2 separate regions of the Homo sapiens genome follow, and region 1 is linked to region 2. The links come from fine-mapping of genetic effects on gene expression. Tissue or cell type: whole blood. Region 2 holds a variant in brackets; the other region holds the start of a gene. All regions are shown on one strand. Distances are between the middles of the regions.

What was found. PIP is the estimated chance that this variant, and not a neighbour inherited with it, causes the effect.
Region 1: it holds the start of FURIN, and the variant in region 2 is fine-mapped to the expression of FURIN in whole blood (TOPMed, PIP above 0.99).

The regions. Positions count from the first base shown.
Region 1 is chr15:90,864,525-90,870,834 of GRCh38, reverse strand. FURIN (furin, paired basic amino acid cleaving enzyme) reads right to left here and starts at 2,247. Exons shown (of 16, transcript NM_002569.4): 1 at 2,124-2,247. RefSeq lists enhancers at 782-1,076, 1,014-1,123, 862-1,156, 1,224-1,273, 516-1,715.
Region 2 is chr15:90,816,304-90,824,545 of GRCh38, reverse strand. No RefSeq gene overlaps it. Among named protein-coding and RNA genes, the nearest start is that of FURIN, 48 kb to the left of the region's middle. RefSeq lists enhancers at 6,484-7,313, 7,314-8,145. The variant G/T (reference allele first, on the strand shown) is at 5,775.

The sequences.
Region 1 (6,310 bases), 47 kb before region 2:
GGAAACTGAGGCGCACAACGTTTAAATAATTTGCGCAAAGTCCCACAACCAGCAGACCTCAGATCCTGCAAGAGACTGGGGTGTTTGGCAGAGCCTGAATCCAAGCTACTTGCAATATACCAGCCGGAGCCTCTCCCTCCCTGGGCCCTAGAAAACGTTTGTGCTACTTGGCTGAGGCCGACGCTGCTTGAGCTGAGAAAGAAAAGAAGGAAAATGTGGCCAGGAGCTTCCCAGGCTGGGTTATTCCAAGGTCGCAGAGTAGCCTGTGCCCATCTCTTCTCGCTCCCTGTGAGATAACCTGGCTGCACAGGATCAGCCTGTGGCCTCCTTAACACAGGTTCCCGGGTAATGGGAAAAAAAAAATCCACTGAGTGTTTTCTATGAGCCAGGCACCATTGAGAGCTCTTTTCCTGTGTCAACCCGTTTTATCCTCACCACATGCCCCATGAGGTGGGTACAGTACATTTTCCTTTAAGTACCTTTGATGTATCACTGTCTGCATTTTATAGAGGAGGAAACTGAGGCCCAGAGAGGTTAAATCATGATAATTCTTAAGGCAACTGGTGAAAAATCAATCAGCAAACCGGTTCAAATCCCTGGGGCACTATTTTTTGCTGGGACACCTTAGACAAGTTAATTTCTCAGGGACTTCCTCAATTTACCCCTCTATAAAATGGAGATAATATTTAGTGAATGGGATCAGGTACGATTCGGGCACCTTTACAAACACTGCAAGAACTGGAAACTGGAGGAACAATGCTGGGTCCTCAAAGTTGAGCGGGAAGATAAGTCCAGTTGGCCTTGTCCCAAAGTGGGGACTTCCCCTCCGCCAAGGAACTAAGACTTGTAGGGGCCACACTGGGTAGCGCCAGCCACAGTTGGGAGAACAATACTCCAGCAGTCAGACTGAGGCAGGAAGTGACTCACGCTTCTTCCTTAGGCTGTGAGCAAGAGAACTCCATTGAGGGGAAACAGGGACAGGGCTGGCCCCACCTACCCACTTGTCCTCAGGCCTAGAAGAAAGGTCAGCCCAGAAAAATAGCAATACTTGCTGCTTCAGGTGCCCCACCCATCCTGGAGACTGGCCCCAGGGGAGCCCGCAGTGGGTCTTTGGAGGGGGAGGGGCTAGCCTAGGCTCAGATGACTGCCACCCAGGCAGAGGCGGTGGGAAGTGGAGCTTCCCAGTTTCTTCCAGCCAGCTTGCCTCTTCAATCTGCATAAGGCAAAATTCTTTAAAGTGGGTTCTCAGAGGTGCCTCCCTGAGAGGGAGGAATGAGGACAGGATTGGGCAGTTGAGCACCTCTCTCTGCTTCACCCAGAGTGTCTCACATTTTAGGGTTTCACATGAGATTGTATTTTACAACAATTCTGCTGCTAAAAAGAATTTGAAAGCCACTCTCTGTGAGACTTCTCTGGAAAAAAATCCCATTTGACCACAACTGGTGACTTCTGCCTTTATCTCATTGCAACAAGTCCTGTGGGCAGGTATTGTTCTCTTTATCACTCTCAACTGGCCCTGGAGCCCAGGTCTCCTGACCTGGGGCCCTAGGGGCCCAAGGTCCTCTGGATCCCACCTTACCAGTTTTACACAGCAGTTAGCAGGACTTGGGCATGTGACAGAAGTCTGGAGATGAGTGAGAGGAGCAGGGCCTGATGGGTAAGTGGGGGCTGTAAAGGGGCTCCATTTTCCCAGCAGGGCTCTGGGAGGAAGAGTCCAGCTAGGCCTCTCTTTATCCTTGATTTGGGGCTAATCCAGAGAGGCTCCTGAGAATCACATAGTCCTAAATCCACCCAGTCATCCTGACTCCAAGCACTCCTGTTGTCTCCTTGGGGTGCTCTGGGAGTCTTCTCTGAAATCTCTGGTCCACCTCAGGCACAGCAAATAAAGCCTTCGGCAGCAGCACCCACACCTAGTTGTAAGCAGAATGTCTACACAACATTCAGACGTGCATAGAAGGGTGCACAACAAAATTCCATTGGTGTTCTCTCCGAATGAAAGGGTCACATTTGCGATCTTTGTTTTCTTCTTTTTGCCTACCTGCATTTTTCAGGAATGTCTACAAGAACTCCTAAAATAATTAAACCTTTAAGTCAATGCAAAATCGAATAAAGCATGTCCATACTTCACCATCCAGCTCCAGAGCACCTGGGATTCATCCTGGCCGCTGCTGCTTCCCCGCCACTCACTGCAGCTGCAACAGTCAGGCTCCTATCCCTTCACAGGGCGGGGCCCTTCCAGTTCTGGCTAAACCACTTTGGGAAAACCTTCTTTATATGACAGGCAAACAGGGTGTCTGTGGGTGGGGGGAGGAGCTAAAAGTGATGTGGTGGTGACATATCTGGTCGCACTGGAACTGGATCCTAACATGGCCAGCCAGCCCTTCTCATTTTCCTCATTTATTGGGGTGGGTCTGCACTTACCTTCTGCCTGGCTTTGCTGCATCCCAGCCACTGGCTGACTTAATGACTTCCTTCCGCCAGCTCCAGCTCCTTGTGTTCTGCCTTGCCTTCCATGGCCAGCCAGTGCTGCCACAATTATGTACCTAATAAATGCTTTGGGTGCAGTCTCGCCTGGCAGACATTCATTGAGCAGCTGCTGAACGCTGGGCTCTGGTGCCCCATAGCTGGGTCCCTTAGAGCTTGTCCATAGGAAGCCAGAGACCACCTCTCTAGTAGGGTTGCATGGAGGTACCTGGGACACACCAGGGTCTTCCTCAGTCTGCGACCTCCCTGGCCTTCCAGCTTCAACAAGCCTGCTGCCCATCCTTCTCTCTCTCGATTCAGAAATGTGAATCACTCAATCCTCATAGTTTTTTTTGTTTGTTTGTTTTATGGGTTTGTTTTTTTTTTTTCTAGACAAGAGTCTCGCTCTGTTGCCCAGGCTGGAATGCAATGGCCTGATCACAGCTCACTGCAACCTCTGCCTTCTGGGTTCAGGCGATTCTCATGCTTCAGCCTCCCAAGTAGCTGGGATTACAGGCTTACGCCACTCGTATTTTTTTTTTTTTTTTTTGTATTTTTAGTAGAGATGGGGTTTTGCCATGTTGGCCAGGCTGGTCTCGCACTCCTGACCTTAAGTGATACACCCACCTCGGCCTCCCTAAGTGCTGGGATTATTAGGCGTGAGCCACCACGCCCGGTCCCCTTGTTGAGTTTTCAATCAGTTTGTCATCCTGAACAGGGTTTCTCAACCTTGGCATTATCAACATCTTGGGTCGGATAATTCTCTGTAGGGGACACTGCACTCTACATTGCAGGATGTTCAGTCGCATCCCTAGTCACTAAACATTAGCTGCTAGTAGCATTCCCGCTCCCATGATGACAACCAAAAAGATCTCCAGGTATTGCCAAATGTCCCTTGGGAGACAAAAATCTCTCCCAGCAAAGAACCACTGTCGCAGAATGAGGAGTGGGAACGTCACAGGATGGTGGTTAGTGTGCCAGGGTTCGAGGCAGCAAGAGTTGTCTGCTGGGAACTAAGCTCTGAGACAGCTAGCAGTGAGGGAGAAAACTCCCAAACTTGAAACTGCCCAGTATGCCAGCACAACAATGGGCCGTTTAGTGATCAGGGCAAACAATCATGCATCCTCATGACATCTGAGATCACTTTCCATCGTGTTGGTGATAATGCTGAATCAAGGAAAGGATCAATCATGTTGATCATACTCCATTTTCTAAGGTGGGGAGGTGTGTGAGCCCTTGTAGCATTAAAGACGTATTTGGAAAACAGATCAGTGCTTGCTTGGGGAAGGGGGCAGGGAGGGGCGGGAGGAAACTTTTGGGAATGATGGACATGTTCATTATCTTGATTGTGGTGATGGTTTCATGGGTGTGTCCATATATCAAAACATATCAAGTTGTACACTTTAAATCCATGCCGTTTATAGTGTGTCAGTTATACCTCAGCAAAGCTGTTTTGAAGATGTGTTGTTTAAAGTTTTAGTGCTTGAAGGGCATTATTTTGAAAATTCACTACTGTGGAGTAGTCCATTTCTTTGCTGAATAAATAAGGGGTCACTGTAGTACTTAAAAAGAAAACAGGAAGAAAAAACAAACAGAAGAAGAAGAAGAAAAGCGATCATGGGCTGTAAGGTCGTCCTAGGCAGGGAAGGAAAGGAATGGCGTGAAGAGTTGGCTCAGTCGCCCCTGAGTGTGGCCCGGAGAGCCTGTCCTCTGGCCTACGGCAGGCCCCAGAGAGTCTTTCCGTTGACTGATGCCATCAAATCAACATGTCTGGAACGGTATTATCAGGGACTTGGGAAAAATAGAATGACAAATGTGCTGGCTGCCAGGAAAGGAACAGATGAGTCTGGAAATTATAGGCTCCTCCACAAACTTTAATCCCTAAAACAAACATTGCTGGGGAAAAAGTCAGTTAATACCTGGAGGAGTGTGAGTGCTGTCCTTCAATGGGGCACGGCACACCTGGGAGCAGAGAGCATTTACAGAAGCCAGACACCGTGTGCCAACCTGTGTCAACAGGCTCATGCTCAAGGGGCTGCACGTGGCAGCAGGGAGCACTGCGAGCGGCAGTGAGGGGCCCTCTCTGACGGTGCAGATGCTTTTTGGCTGATGGAGACCTCTACGGAGGTTCTCAGGAGCCCCTCAGCGAGGCGGGTGAGCAAGGAGAGGGGCTGTGATAGCGATGAGTTATATGTGAAAAGAAAAACTGCTTTTGTGGAGGTTGATTGTGCACTGGGCATTTCATTCACTCATTCCTCAGATACTCATTGAGTGCCTGCTGGGTGCAGGACCTCTTCCAGTGCTTCAGTTATAGCGAGGGAAGCAGGCAGTTCACAGGTGAATAAGCCAGTTTATGAGAGAAGTTCAGATCATCCTAAGAGCTCTGGAAGAAAATGATAAAGAAGGTAATGTGGGAGTGCCTGGGGAAGCGGGAGGGCTGCTATCCCTGGGGTGGTCAGGGAAGACCTCTGGGAGGAGGTGATGTTTGAGCTGAGGCTGAAAAAAGAGGCAAAAGTGTAAAGATCTGGAGGAAGAGTGTCCCAGGCAGAGGGAGAGGCAAGGACATGGGCCTGGGGGCATGAGCTTATGCACTTGGGGAGCAGACACTTCTTGGAGCATGGCCGAGAGATGAGATGAGAGGTAGGTAACGGGCTGGATCACAGAGCACTTGCCAAGCTGGGTCCAGATGTTGAATTTAATTATCAGAGCAATGGGCTCTGGATTCTCAAAATTCTTTTGGAAATTTGACTGATTTACCCTTTAATAAAAATTATTTATTTATTTATTTAGAGATGGAGTCTTGCTCTGTCGTCCAGGCTGGAGTGCAGTGGCGCAATCTCGGCTCACTGCAACCTCCACCTCCCTGGCTCAAGCAATTCCCCTGCCTCAGCCTCCCGAGTAGCTGGGATTACAGGCACACACCACCACACCCGGCTAATTTTTTTGTATTTTTAGTAGAGACAGGGTTTCACCATGTTGGCCAGACTGGTCTCGAACTCCTGACCTCAGTCAGTCCACCTGCCTCAGCCTCCCAAAGTGCTGGGATTACAGGCGTGAGCCACCGCGCCCAGCCATTTTATTTTTATATTTTTAAATTTAATTTAAAAGATGGGCTCTCACTCTGTTGCCCAGACTGGCCTCAAGCAATCCTCCTGCCTCCCCCTCCAGAGGTGCTGGGATTACAGGCGTGAGCCACCGTGCCCGGCAAATTTACCCTTTTTAAAGGCTCCTCTGACTACCATGGGGAGTAGAGATATGGGGGTTCGTGTGGGAACCCACCACAGCCCGACGCAGGAGGCACCATAGGTGACCCTCCTGATGTGAAATGTAGGGGACTGGCTTGGGGGAGTCCAGTGACTTTTTTTTTTTTTGAGACAGTGTCACTCTTGTCACCCAGGCTGGAGTGCAGTGGTGCGGTCTCAGCTCACTGCAGCCTCTGCCTCAGCCTCCCCGAGTAGCTGGGATTAGAGGCATGTGCTACCACGCCCAGCTAATTTTTTGTATTTTTAGTAGAGACGGGTTTTCATTTGCTACGTTGGCCAGGCTGGTCTCAAACTCCTGACTTCAAGTGAACCACCTGCCTCGGCCTCCCAGAGTGCTGGGATTACAGGTGTGAGTCACCGCCTTGAGTGACTCTATAAGCGCCCAGCCCCTGAATGACTTACAAACCAGTGAGCAGGTGGTAGGCTCCTGCGCAGGCCTGGGAAGGCTGGACAGGAGGTGAACCACACATCTGACCTGCGAAGTGGGGGCCTCTGCAGGACAAGAGCTGGCGGAGCAGCCAGGCGGGATCCCCCAACCCAACTGCTTAGGTGGGTTCAGGTGCTTCTCTCTAGACCATAGCCCT
Region 2 (8,242 bases):
TCCAGACACTCCGTTATGGGCTGAGCAGGCATTATCCTATTAGTCTTCATAATCCCCCAGTCGACCCTGTGGGGGATCTGTCAGAGTGGTGGGAAAAACTATAGGGAAAGGATGCAAACCTTCCGAAAGGTCAGAAGGTTTTGCAGAGCCCTGGGGGAGAATAACTGAAGGCAGCTGTTCTATAACCCTGAGGCAGAGGGCAAGGAGTAGGTACAAGGGAGTGTGGGGGAATTTATCTTAAAAGGCTTGTTTGTTTATGTTGTCCAGGAACTGACCTTTGATCATGCGGGTGTGAGGTTCCCTGAAAGGGGAACAATACCTTTTTTTTTTTTTTGAGATAGAGTCTCACTCTGTCACCCAGGCTTAAGTGCAGTATCACTGTCTCTGCTCACTGCAACCTCTACCCCGGCAGGATTCAAGCAATTCTCCTGCCTCAGCCTCCCGAGTAGCTGGGATTACAGGTGCGTGCCACCACTCCCAGCTAATTTTTGTATTTTTGGTAGAGACGGGGTTTCACCATCTTGGCCAGGCTGGTCTTGAACTCCTGACCTCATGATCCACCTGCCTTGACCTTCCAAAGTGCTGGGATTAGAGGCGTGAGCCACCGTGCCTGGCCACAGTAATTGTCAGTTACCTGCAGGTCGTGTCGGCTCCAGGTTTTCCACATTGTGCCTGCACTGAATAAAAGCAAGCAGCTCCAGCTTCTTGGGGCTGCTCTCTGGCCACTTGAGCCAGGCAGTCACCCAGCTGCTCTTATGCTGTATGCCTGTGTCTGAGAACTCATTTCATCCGTTGGCCAGGGTCTATGAGACAGATCTGGCACCACCCCACAGTATAGTGCTGTTATGAGCTCCCTGAGGCACAGAGAAGTTAAATAACTTGCTCAAGGGCTGAAGGTCACACAGCAGGTGGTAAAAGTGGCCTTTGACCCCAAGCAATCTGACTCCAGGGCCATTCAATAGTCTAAGAAATTGCAGGCCTGGCATGGTGGCTCATGCTTGTAATCCCAGCACTTTGGGATGCTGAGGCGGGCAGATCACCTGAGGTGAGGAGTTCAAGACCAGCCTGGCCAACATGGTGAAACTCTGTCGCTACTAAAAATACAAAAATTAGCTGGGCGTGGTGGCTGGCACCTGTAGTCCCAGCTACTTGGAAGGCTGAGGTACATGAATCGCTTGAACCCAGGAGGCAGGGGTTGCAGTGAGCCAAGGTCGCGCCATTGCACTCCAGCCTGGGTGACAGAGCGAAAGCCTGTCTCCAAAAAAAAAAAAAAAAAAAAAGAATGGAAAGGAAATTGGTAGGTGAGGCTGTCCCCCATCCTGTTCTGGGACTTGAATCTGTTCCCCGCTCAGGCCACTGGATCCTGCTGGGGCCCAGGCAAGAAAAGCGGGCTCTAGACCAACCCTGCAATTGCATTTTTCTAGAAAGCCTTCATCACACGTTGCAGCTTAAGGTCCCAGTCTAGGGGTTCTCAACGGACTGTATCTTGAAGTGGCATTTGCCTGGCCCGGCAGGGAGACAGGACTCTGTTCTCAGGCAGATTTGGGTGGTAACATGACCTCATTTGACTCCCAGGCTGGCAGGGCCTGGGAAATATCAGTTTATGCTTGTTTCCAGAGTTTTAAAGGAGGTTTCCTTTGCCTCTCATACACTGCAAAATGCCTGCTTGGAGTGATGCTTTGCTACTTGCTTCCTGGTTGCCGAGTCTCCCTTTAAGTTCTGAGTCTCTCTCTAAGAGGCCCTTTGGTGTTGGAAGGGGCTTAGAACCCTGGCTTTGTCATGAGTCCCTTTCCTGAAAACAGCTCCCGTGCAAGGCTGTTCCACTTCCACATTCTCAAACACCCTCCCTCCCACAGATCCCCAGCCCACCCCGACAGTCTTGTCCAACTTGAGGATGGAGGTGACAGCCATCACGGAGTCTAATGCCCTCACTTTTTTTTTTTGAGACAGGGTCTCACTCTGTTGCCCAAGCTGGCGTGCAGTGGTATGGTCATGGCTTACGGCTCACAGCAGCCTCAACTTCCCCAGGCTCAAGAGATCCTCCTGCCTCAGCCTCCTGAGTAGCTGGGACTATAGAAGCACATTACCAGCTGGGCTAATTTTTAAATTTTTTTGTAGAGACCGGGGTCTTGCTATGTTGCCCAGGCTGGTGTCAGACTCCTAGGCTCAGGTGATCCTCCCACCTTGGCCTCCCAAAGTGCTGAGATTACAGGTGTGAGCCACTGCACCCTACTCCCTCACTTTTGCAGATGGGAAACCAAGGATGAAGGAGAGGAGAATGCCTTGCCCAAGACCTCAGTGCTAAAATTCTCGGCAGCTGTGGTTTGTATTCACCTGGGGCTGGCAGCATCGGGACCACCAGGAGACCCGGTGGAAATGCACACCTCTGGGGCGCACTCCAGACTTGCTGCATCGGAAGCCATGGCACAACCAGCTCTCCAGGTGACTGAGGCTAACACAAGTTTGAGAACTACTGCCCTGGCCCTTGCTTTCTCGGCTGGGACTGACGTTCTGCACAGGTAGGACCCAGTGACAAACTTTCACCTCCCAACTGCTCCATGTACCTTGGTCCCCACAAAAGCCTTCCTCACACACAAGTAAACTCCAGAAACAAAGGATAGGAAAGAGCTAGAAGCAGACACTGGTGGTTATGAACATCTTCACATGATAGACAATGCAGCTCCAAAGTGAGGAAAACTGGCTTGCTATTTCAGCACAAACAAGACGCCAACCAGCCAAAAACATTGGTACACAAGCAAAAGAAAACCTAGGCCAGGCACGGTGGCTCACACCTGTAATCCCAGCACTTGGGGAGGCCGAGGCGGGTGGATCACCTGAGAGGTCAGGAGTTCAAGACCAGCCTGGCCAACATGGTGAAAACCCATCTCTACTAAAAATACAAAAAATTAGCCGGGTGTGGTGGCCCGCGCCTGTAGTCCCAGCTACTCGAGAGGCTGAGGCAGGAGAATTGCTTGAACCCAGGAGGCGGGGGTTGCAGTGAGCCAGAATCCCACCATTGCACTCCAGCTTGGGCCACAGAGCAAGACTATCTCAAACAACAACAACAGCAACGAAAATAAAAAACAGAAAGGAAAAGAAAACCTAGGCTGGGCATGGTGACTCCCGTCTGTAATCCCAGCACTTTGGGAGGCTGAGGCGGGCAGATCACCTGAGGTGGGGAGTGTGAGACCAGCCTGGCCCCCATGGTGAAACCCTGTCTCTACTAAAAATACAAAAATTAGCCAGATGTGGTGGTGCACGCCTGTAATCCCAGCTACCTGGCAGGAGAATCACTTGAACCCAGGAGGCGGAGGTTGCAGTGAGCCAAGATCATGCCACCACGCCACTGCATTCTGGCCTGGGTGACAGAGTGAGACTCTGTCTCAAAAAAAAAAAAAAAAAAGAAGAAAATCTAAGTGAAAACTGCTGAAGCCAGCTGGAAAGCGGCTTCTGTTTGTCCAGATGAAGCCAGCAGAAGTAACAAGGGAGCCTTCAGTGACCTGGGGCTCCGTCCCCACTGCCTGGTGCTGGCCGTGGGGCTGCAGGATTTTAAGGCCCTGCCAGCCTGAGGCCCCGTCTCCTCCTCCTATCTTATCCTCCCATGAGAAGGCAATGAGACAGATGTCTTCGCAGCGCCCCTTCACCCACTCACCCGCCCATCCGCTCATCTATCCATCCAACAAGCTGTTATTAGGCACCGGCTGTGTGCCAAGTCCCTGGGGCTGGAACCCAGATCTGGGGCAAAGGTACAGACCCTAAGCTGAGGCCTGTGGAGGGAGTGGCAGGCCCTGTGGGGCAGGGGTCCTGGCAGGTGTGCTGGGGTCATCCCCATTGTGCCGCTCGCTGGGCTGGGGCTCATACAGCCAGGTGGCCCAGCCTAGAGTGTGCATATCCTCACAGTGAGGCGGTGGCCAGGCTGGCACAGGGCACTTTCTGCTCAGGAAAGGGGTCCCGCGGGTGGGTGCTGTGTCCTTTCTGCTCTTCCTAGGTGAGGAGGGACCACAAAGGAGAGCACAGGGTGGCTTCAGCGGGGGTGGCTGGACACTGGGATGGTCAGCCTGGAGGTCACTTGGCCGTTTCAGCCTCCTGGGCACCCTCCCCAACTCCTGCTGGCCCAGGTGCCCTGGGGTCTTCACCCTCACCCCACTTACTCCAACACTGCTCTCTCCTTCCCCCGGGGCGTTTCCCTCCCTGCCTGTGCCCTGGTTGAAGGCTGAACCATGCCTGGAGCTCTGCTCTGGTTAAGAAATGTTTGTGGAATATCTGACCAAAAGGATGCTGCAGCAGCCCCGGAGGCCAGGACCAAGTGGCATGTTGATGGTGCAGATGAGACACTGGGACTCTGAGAGGCCACAGAACTTGCCAAGGGCACTCCATGGCTGAGGAAGGGGCCAGGTCCCGCCCATTCCAGACTGGCTCTCACTGGGTGCAAGGGACCTGGTGGCGACGGTGGCCGCACGGGTCTCTGTCCTTATATGCACATCCAGCCATGCAGGCGGGTGTCTGTGGTGGGGCTGGCGTGGGCTGACCTCCGATCTCCCTGGTGCTGACTGCTGAGTTCATCTTTGAGGTTAGCAGTGTTAACTGCCTCCCTGTCACAGCGTCTCAACGCTCCCACAGTGGTGGGGGCCACAGCGCAGGGGGCCACCCCTCTCTGAGCCCGAGCAGGGCTCTGGGCAGAAGTCCAGGAGTCTCTCAGTGTCTCTGATGTCCTTCCTTCTAGGCGGGGGTTTCAGATCTGGTAGTGGTGGCTCTTCAGACCCTTACTCCGCATCAGCAGTTCCCGGGGCACCATTGCCACCTCCCACCCCAAGAGTCCCTGCTCCAGGTTCTATCCTACCAAGGAAAGTCTTCCCTACAGGAAGCAGGGACCTGAGCTCTCTGCTCCACTCCTGGCCCAGGCATAGTGCCAGGGCCTGACCTTCATGGGGCCTTGTGGCTCCTGGCAGGGACTGAGTAGATGGGGCCAGGACAGGCAGATGCCTGTGGCCTGTGTGTGTGACAGGCCCTGTGTGTGGGACCCATGGGGACAGACAGGCTCTCTGGGGTGAACTCCCACATCCTGAATAGATCTGAGCCTAGAGACCATCAGAGTGCCATCCTGGCACCTTCCCAGGCGTCACCGAACCCTCTGTGGGGCCGTGGATCCCGGCACCTTCCCAGGCGTCACCGAACCCTCTGTGGGGCCGTGGAACCCGGCACCTTCCCAGGCGTCACCGAACCCTCTGTGGGGCCGTGGATCCCGGCACCTTCCCAGGCGTCACCGAACCCTCTGTGGGGCCGTGGAACCCGGCACCTTCCCAGGCGTCACCGAACCCTCTGTGGGGCCGTGGAACCACACAGTTGAGGTGTGGCGATGCCAAAACCTCGACCTTGACCTTGGCTAGCTGCAGGGACAGCCTCAGGCCTGTGCGGGGACGCCTCACCATGGCTGGGGCTTTCTGGACTCTACTTCGGGCTTCTGTCTACCTTCTTGTCCTGTCCTTCTTCCCAGTGGTGACCCTGTGGGGCAGGGTACACAGCCCACCCCAACCAGGGAGGGTTTTCTCCCTTCCTCCTTCGTCTCCTGCCAACAGGGAGCGTGGGCCAGCCGAGAAGCCTTTCCGAGAAGCAGAGTGAGTGCGTTTTGGAAAGCAGGAGCCTACTGCATGCCGAGGGGCTTGTCCCCGAAGTCCTGGGTCTGCCCTGCACAGCTGCAGAGTTGAGCCCCTGCCTCCTAGTGGTTGCTGCACTCATGAACTGGAGCACCTAGCAGGGTCTGGGCCAGGCTCGGG[G/T]CCCCTGGGTGCGCCCCACCAGCTGGCTTCTCTGAGCCCTGGCTTTGAGGACACACGGGGCTGTGCCAGCTGCACGGAGGGAGAAGTGGCTGCTGGAGCCCCTGGGGATTCCTCCCCAGCTGCCACAGAAGACCCATCGCCCATTGTCTCTGCCCAGAGGCCTCTGCCAGCGGCGGGTCCCAGGCTGGGGGAGGTTGACAGCTGCTGCCTGCTGCTCCCCACCCAGGCAGCAGCTCCCAGCCAGAGAAAGAGCCGGGCTGGGACTCTGGGAGCCTCCAAAGGACAGGGTGGGCCTCGGGGCCTCAGAGCAGTTCCAGACGGCTGCAGGAGTGGGAGAAGCAGCAGTTTCTCAAGAAGAGCGAGAAGGCTTGGACCACAGCCTCCGCTTCCTCTTCTGGAGAAAAGCCACAGCTCAGCGATGCTGGCTGATAATTCTGCAGCCTCTGTCCCTGGAGCCTGCAGCAGAGGCTGGGAGTTTCGAACAGGTGACAGCAGGTGGCCCCTGAGGCTCTGGGTGGAAAGCGGGGTTGGGAGAAGAGGTTGGATAGTTCAGGGAAAGAGCTCAGATTCTTGATGCCACTGAACTTGTTGTCTGAACTGGAGCACTTTTGAGAATGAAAATAAACTGTGTTAATTATCACACCAGGACAATGGATGTAAACTGGGACTCCAGGGCAAATCGAGATGTGTGTTACCCTACTTACTACCACCTCCCAGCTGCGTGGATTTGGGCAAGTTACATAACCTCTCTGAATTCTGGTTTCTGCATAAAAAAGGCCAACATCATGTGCCTGCCTCCCAGGGCTGCGGGAGGGATGGAAGAAGTGAATTACCTGAGTTCCCAAAACAGCCCTTGGCATGGAGCCGGTGGGGTGAGGGGCTCTCCGTGCTTGTTCTTTTCCTCTGAGAGTAGTGGGTTCTCTGTCCCTGGAGGTGAGCAAGGGCCTGCCTGCCAGCGTTCTGTAGTGTGAGGGCCTCAGCAGGGCATATGTGCAGCTACAGAGCCAGATTCCAATCCTGCCTGTGCCCTCCAGAAGGATGGCAAGTGAGTGTGGGAGAGTCAGGCCTTCGTGTACCTAGGGGAGGATGGGCCCGTGATGGGTCCCAGGCTGGCACTCCTTGGTGGACTTGTGCCCTCTCCTATCCCAGGTGGTGGCGATTTGTGCCATGGAGGGCCACCAGCAGGGCCCAGCCCAGAGCAGCTTTGCTGTATCATGGACCGGTCTTTGGCTTCAAAGCCTTGGCATCAGTTCAGGGAAAGTTTGCCTGCTCCTGCCCTCCTGGGGTTGCGCTGGGCGAATGCAGAGCTTCCCTGGGGGTCTGAGAGGACTGGAAGATGAGCTGGAGGAAGGAGGCCGCTTGCATTTTCTGTGCCTGCTCCCGGGTCCTGAGAAACTGAGCAGAGCCTGTTCCAACCTAGAATGTTTTCAAGAGTTGGGTGTGGGGCCTGGCTCTGCCACCTGTGGTCATTTGAGCTTAGGCAAATCAGAGGTCTCTAGGCCTCAGGTTCCTTGCTGGGAGGCAGGGGTGGGTCAACCTATCATCTTCCCAGGACATGGGGAAGGGCTGTAGGTAGTGTGGGCCCCACATGGCTCTGCTCTCCACCTTCAGGCCCCATGCACGTTATTTTCATCTGTTCCCCCACAGCCCTGGGAGCTCCTGGAGGCACAGCCTGCGACCCTGAGGGATAAGCTCCATCTCCAGAAGGAACGAGTGGATGAGGTCAGAGCCCAGCAGTGACCTGTCTGTGCCAGAGTCCACCCCCACCACCAAGGCCAGAGCTGCTGCAGCAGGTGGAACGGACATGCCTCCTGCCAGATGCCTTGGCTGGATCAGCAACTCTCCAAGGTGGCCTCATGCTGGGGACATTACCCCAGGGGTATCAACTTCTGGCTACTTTGTCTCCTTTCCACTTCTCATGCACAGAGAAGGTTCTTCTGGCCAGAAGGATGACCTCTGAAAATGTCAGATCCGGAACGCATCCGTGCTAATGGCACTCAGCCCTCAGCAAACTCGCCTGGCCAGTCCCCCCCATTAAACACGGAGCCAAAAGCCCACAGGCGGCAGTTGGGGCTCACAGGCAGCCGAGGAGGCAGGAAGTCAGTGTGCTACCACAAGGGTGGGTCCTCAGGGTGGGTGCAGGGTCCCTCTCAGGACTGAGTCCCCAGGCAGAGGCCACACGGCTTCCCATCAACCCCCTCTTCACACCTTTGGCTTTGGCACAGGCAGGGTCTCCCCAGCTACACTCTCCTGAGTAACGTCACAGGTAACACCACACAAAGGGCAGGCCGAGGTGTGTGTTTTGTCTTATGCCACTTCCTCGCTGTGTGGCACCCAGACAAAGGTGACCTACAGCTGAGAAACGCATGTCTCCGAAAATGGGGCCACTGGAGTTCAGGCAAGAGAGGCCAAAATCCTACCAAAGATGCTGGGGCCAATTGGCCCATTATGGAGCATCCTGAAAAACG